Regions from separate parts of the Homo sapiens genome. Here region 2 is reported to be linked to region 1. The links are microRNA targets in miRTarBase. Many come from high-throughput screens and were not tested one by one. Region 1 holds a microRNA gene; the other region holds the end of a gene's coding sequence.

Region 1 (3,124 bases):
GATATAGGAATCCCCAGAACTCACAATAAATTCTAATACCATTATCATAAAGATGATACCAAAAGTATTGTTTCTTATAATGTGTATATTCTCTCCTTTTATCATAATTACTAAAAATATTGTATTATAGATCCTTAGCCCATTACTTCCAGCAATACACTGTATATAATTTCCCAGATAATGTGCAAAGTGTTTTTTCACCCTTTTTCCAGAAGCATGGCGATAAATGTAATTAATACAAAATGTTTTAAAACAAATAACTTTTAAAAAAAATTACTTTAGGCCAGGTGCAATGGCTCACGCCTGTAATCCCAGCACTTTGGGAGGCCAAGGTGGGCAGATCACGAGGTCAGGAGATGGAGACCATCCTGGCTAACATGGTGAACCCCATCTCTATTAAAAATACAAAATATTAGCCAGGCGTGGTGGTGCACACCTGTAGTCCCAGCTACTTGGGAGTCTGAGGCAGGAGAATTGCTTAAACCCGGGAGGCAGCGGTTGCAGTGAGCCAAGATTGCACCACTGCACTCCAGCCTGGGTGACAGAGCAAGAGTCCACGTCAAAAAAAAAAAAAATTACTTTTACTACAAGCAAACCCTGAAGCATCCTGGACAGTCTTGACCTGTGAGATACCCTCTTACTTCCACAGTCATGGAAACTATGCATTTTCCAGATGGCATATAAGACCCGATACCTATGTTTTTCTAGAATCCCTTTGCAGTGGACTTTTCTTCTTCCTAAGGCCCATGGTGCGTGCATGGTCTCTAATGAACAGATGGCACTTGGTCCCTGGATGAGCTCTTGTACCTGCAAATCTTGAGAGCTTGGAGACAAGCAAGAAAATCATTTCAGACCCTCTCCTCCACTGTCAGCACCACTTCCCCACCCCTTTCACCTTGATCTGCTTGGTTTTGTGTTTTTGGGAAAACCCACTAGTTATTGGTCACTACCTGCTCACAAGTCAATGTAATGCTCCCCGTCTTGTTTCCATCTTGGTTTTCCTTTGTTTAAGAGGATGAAGCCACTTAGGACCCCTATATGAATGAGACTTGTTTGGTTGAAAGTTGACCCAAAGTAATAAGTGGTTTATTGTAAAGAGGAAAGAGGTCTATAAATAGAAAACCCTGGGGGACTGAGGCTGGCCTCAGGACCAGGGAATAGCAGAACACAAGTGTGCAAGTCAGAGAACTAGCCAAGAGTTTATAATCAAGCTTCTAAACAGGAAGTCTCAATTCAACTTCAAAAATTACTTTATAAAGAATTCAAGTGCCATGAAGGCATGTTTTAACTTGGCTTCTTTGGCTCAGAATAGTGTATATTGGTATCTCTAGTGGCTATCCCCTTCCCATTGTTAAAAACAACATGTGAAAAATCCTACAAAATAGGTAAAACACATTTTAAAGTGCCATTGACTGCTGAGGCAACTCACTTAATATCAACAAGTCTCAGTTTTTGGAAGAGGTATTGCCACCCTTTCTAGTCTAATAGGGACTAGAAAGGGTGGCAATACTCTTCAAAAACTTCACAAGGAAGTTGTAAGGAATATATGAGATCATCTATATAAAGCCCTTTGTGAACAATAAATCACGATAAACATAGACTTGTTGCATCTATCATATCACTTAGGGTTTTTTTTTTTTCTCTCACAGATTAAGGTAGTTCAAAAAGGAAGCCAGAATTTTCACTTTCTCTTTATTTCTGCTCCCAAAGAACCGTCAATTGCTTAAGGGATTGCTCCCAAAGAGCCTGGAGGTAGAGGACAGGAGGAGGCAGTTGTTTATTTAGTTTTTTGAAATGTTTCCAAGGAGAATGAAAACTAAAATTTGTGTGTGTCCTTTTTCATTTGCCTTCTGTCTAAATTGGAGTGTGGACAAAGGGCAGCCGCTTTGCTAGATGTGGACATTTGCTGAGCAGTATACTGTGCTCCAGTTGCAGGTGGATAGTGCCTAGCACTCCTCATTAGCTCATGGTTCTGCATCACATTCTTCAAAGAGCTGCTAAAGCACCCACACACCACCTGCCTGAGGGTGCAGCCAGGGCTGAGTGACATAGTGTGTGCCTCTCCTGCAGGTGCATTAATAAGGAGCCACAGGGGTTATAAGAGGCAGAGGGCTGAGAAGATGTTTCCTACAAATGGATCCGAAACACAGCCTGTTTGTATATGTGCAATTCATTGGCTTCTTGGAAACAATCCTTTGCCCAAAGTAACAGTTTATAATCGTGAAAATGTGACTAAACTTTAAAAGTACATGAGGAAAAGGACTATTTCTATTTTGCCGAGTCCAAGTTGGATTTGACTTTGGCCTTTCCATATCCCAAATGGTATCCACTGTTTTCAGCATTTTGGCCCTGAGAACAGCTGGTGAAGAAATTGATTGAGCTCAGAACAATCCTTCAGATGTCTAGAATAATCAACCACCTTCCATAATTTCAGTCTTACTAACTACGTGATATGGAGTGCACAGAAATCTGATTGACAACTCAATTAGTCCAAATTCCAGTTTGCTGCCATCCACACATCCACAATGTGCACACAAAGGTCAGCTAGTTTATAGAAGAGAAGAAGAAATGGGAGATTTATAATCGAAGGATTAAAGTCGATCACTAATGATCACTATTTAAACAAGGACCTGCTGTTACTTGTTAAACAAGGAAAGATTTGGAGGCTTCCATTTGTTAATGTCATTCAAACATCTGCTGTACACATTCTACCAATGGGCTATGAGCCACAGAACCCAATTGTGACTGCTGGGAACAGTCAATGGGGCTCAGTAAACTGCCTTGAGGAAATGGTCTGCCACAAACATCTGTAGTTATTCTTCAGCTGAAAGGCCAATATTTCCAGGGCAGCTGGGTCCCTCTAAGTCAGTGATTCATAGCTTCAGCTGCACCCTGCAATCACCTAGGAGCTTTAAAAAGTACTGATGTTCATCTCATCCCCAAGACCCCAGGAACTTCCATTTAATTGTTCTGGGGTGTGACCAGGCACACAGGTGATTCTGATTTTCAGTCTGGTTTGAGAATTCTTGGTCCAAACAGACAGGACTTGGTAGCTGGAAGATGTAACCACCAAGCCTCCCATATAATTTAATTAGCACGGCAAATTTGGGCTCATTTGTTCTGC
Region 2 (3,124 bases), not on the chromosome of region 1:
GAACAACACAGAGATGTGTAGGTTACAGACCTGAGTTCGTCAGAAAAGATGAACCCAGCTGTCCAAATCCAGGCGGTTCAGCAAGGCAGCCAGTTCTTATTGGCCAATTGTTGCATAGCCCGAAACGTTGGCGCTCCTCACCTACCCCTACTGAGAGAGAGAAAGAGGACCATATAATATACATTACCAGCTTTAAAAAATTGTTTCGAGGTATAATTCATATACCATAAAATTCACCGTTTTAAAGTGTGCAGTTCAGTGGTTTTTAGTATATTCACAAGGTTGTGCAACCATCAGCGTTATCTAATTCCAGGATGTTTTTATTACTCCTACCTGCAAAAGCCCCTGTACCTGCTAGCAGTCACTCCCCATTCCCATCTTACGCCATCACATTATTAGCTTTAGGATTGACTTCTTTCTTCCTTCCAGATCTTGGTACCGATGGAATCATTCCACCTACCTCCACTGAGACCAAAAAGTTTCTCCTACTCCAGCTGGCCCTGTATTCCCCCTGGAAGGAAGGGAATCATGCCTTCTATATACAGACAGATTGCCTTCAGAAGAGTGGAAGAAAATCTCCACTATCAATGAACCCAGACTCTTGTCTTCTTCAAGAGCAAGGGCCTCCGGAGATCCAAACTGTGATTGAACCAAGTGCAGACTCCTAATGCTCTTGAAATACACAGCCCCTCCTAGGAGCTTACCATTTTCACCTTCCTTGCCTATGCCCTTGCCTTCTAGTTCCAAATATTTTAGCCAGCTTCACTGTGGCAATAGTCTTTCAGAGAAAAGACTTCTTGCTGTTATTCTCCAACTCATCCGTGGGCTTCTGGGGACAGCCATTTGGCTGGGGTGCCAAACACCAGAAGGGGAGATAATAGTTTTGACTCTGAACTTGGCCACAACCCCTGAACTGATCCCAAAATCTGTGAAAAGATTTGAATCTGATATCTCCACCAAAGCCTTGATGTTTTCTCTGTACAGCTAAGTTTTCTGATGGAATCTTCATCTCACCCCATTTTCTTTTTAACCTCGCCCCCTTTTCTACAATCAAATCCATTCATTATTGCGCCCTCCAGGTCCCCTCCTTTTTGCAGAAGGTGTAAAAGAGCTGCCCTTGGTGGGTGCCCTGGGCATGTTGCAACGCCTGCTGGTGCCCTTCTGTCTGTCCACGTCTGCCTAGGGCTCAGGAGTGCTTGTTCTTTCCCTTCCTCCCTGTGTTTCTCTTTATCCTGTCCCCTCTCCTTTCTCCTGGCAGCAGAAAAGGAAGAACACAAGAGCAAACACACAACAATGATGGTGGCAAAGTACCTGTATATAGCCCTTTCCCATTTTTTGCATTATGTTCTTAACTCCTTAATGTGGAATTTTCCAGCAAAATGTTTAACTCAGGTGTGATTTTTGAAAATGTCTCTGTAATATTTTATCTTCTTTAAAAAAAAGGGGGGGAAATACCAAAGTGTGAAATACTGTGCTACCTTCCAGAGTTCCCACATGGGCTGGGATTTTTTTTTCTTTTTCTTTTTTTTTTTTTTTTTTGAGACAGTCTTGCTCCAGCCCAGGCTGGAGTGCAGTGGCATGATCTTGGCTCACTGCATGCTCTGCCACTTGGGTTCAAGCGATTCTCCTGCCTCAGCCTCTCAAGTAGCGGGATTACAGGCGCCCACCACCAAAAATTAGCCCAGCTAATTTTTGTATTTTTAGTAGAGATGGGGTTTCACCATGTTGGTCAGGCTGGTCTTGAACTCCTGACCTCCTGATCCACCCACCTCAGCGTCCCGAAGTGCTGGGATTACAGGTGTGAGCCACCGCGCCTGGCCTGGGCTGGGAATCTTTGTTGACTTCTTTGGGAACATTATCTCTAGAGTCTGCTTTTTTGTGGGCCAGTTTGTAGAGATGTAACATGAAGCCATTCCAGAAATGGTAACTTAAAAAAAAAAAGACTACATGTCTAGGAAACTGTTGAGATTCAAAGGAATCTCACTGTTCCTAAATAAATGTGTATAGTGATTATGAAAAGTATCCCACTGTTGATAAGAAGAGGTTTAGATTCTTGTTCTGTGCCTTTTTGTTGTTGTGGGGGGCATGTGAGTGCATATAATGAAATGGGATGACAGAAAATGTTTCAAATTGGGACATTAAGTGTATTACTCCCCAAACTGATGCTAAAGATGACATATGTTATTACAGGGCCCTGAAGAATTCAGAGTTGTTACTCTCTGTAACATAACTACCTTGAGGGCAGAGTAGGCCAGAGATATTGTAAGTGGGAGGATGGTGAATGTTTAAGGTGAAGTCATTTGAAACTTAAGAGGTGGGGACTGAGGCTAATGTCTCATGTCTCAGATACCCTGAACGGCAGTTGTTCATTACTCACAACATAAAGCAATAAATAGTTAAGGCAGAGGGTAATTTAATAATCACATATTAGCTGGGCTTGGTGGTGTATGCCTGTAGTCCCAGCTACTGAAGAGCCTGAGATGGGAGGATCTATTAAGCCCAGGAAGTCAAGGCTGCAGTGAGCAATGATCATGCCGCTGCACTCCAGCCTGAACAACAGAGTGAGACCCTGTCTCAAATATACATATTTGTCTCATGTATATATATATATATATATATATATATATATATATATATATGGCTTCAGAATGCATTGTGACTTTTGGTTAGGAGGTTGAAAGGCAGCAAACCTATTCTTGTGTTTTTTCTTAGATTAATACAAATTTAAATAGTTACCGTTGGAGCCTGCAGTGAGCCAAGATTGTGCCACTGCACTCCGGCCTGGGCGACAGAGCGAGACTCCGTCTCAAAAAATAAAATAAGTAATAAATAGTTACCATTACTGAGATAAACGCTGACCTGTGGGAAAGAGAGGCCCTTCAAAAATGTAATGGCTGATGGGGAAAAACTAAAATTAGGATTAAACACTTCTTGCAAATAATAATATCCACACAGGAAACCTAAATATTAATAATGAAGAGTTAACCGCTCCCTGATGTTTGAATGGGGCTTTAAAAATTCCTATTTCACGTCATGAAGTGGGAGAAGGCCTAATGGTAATGTTTACTTTCTCAAGAAAATATCTAGTTAAAAGGGGCCAGGTATGTAGCAAAGAGACAGCAAG

Evidence for each region. Region 1 holds the annotated microRNA hsa-miR-5681b (AGGUAUUGCCACCCUUUCUAGU, at 1,460-1,481, shown strand). A microRNA usually pairs through its seed, bases 2 to 8, with sites in the 3' UTR of a target mRNA and lowers its output. Matches are read on the target gene's strand: a 7mer-m8 pairs with bases 2 to 8, a 7mer-A1 pairs with bases 2 to 7 and ends in A, and an 8mer does both.
Region 2: the mRNA of POU2F3 is a reported target of hsa-miR-5681b. Seed matches in the 3' UTR shown: 7mer-A1 at 1,451-1,457.

Annotation. Positions count from the first base shown.
Region 1 is chr8:74,546,941-74,550,064 of GRCh38, reverse strand. It overlaps MIR5681B (microRNA 5681b), which reads left to right and starts at 1,456; the gene lies at 1,456-1,515. MIR5681A (microRNA 5681a) reads right to left here and starts at 1,522; the gene lies at 1,448-1,522.
Region 2 is chr11:120,317,924-120,321,047 of GRCh38, forward strand. It overlaps POU2F3 (POU class 2 homeobox 3), which reads left to right. Exons shown (of 13, transcript NM_014352.4): 13 at 430-2,022. The coding sequence ends at 469. Among named protein-coding and RNA genes, the nearest start is that of TLCD5, 5.8 kb to the right of the region's middle.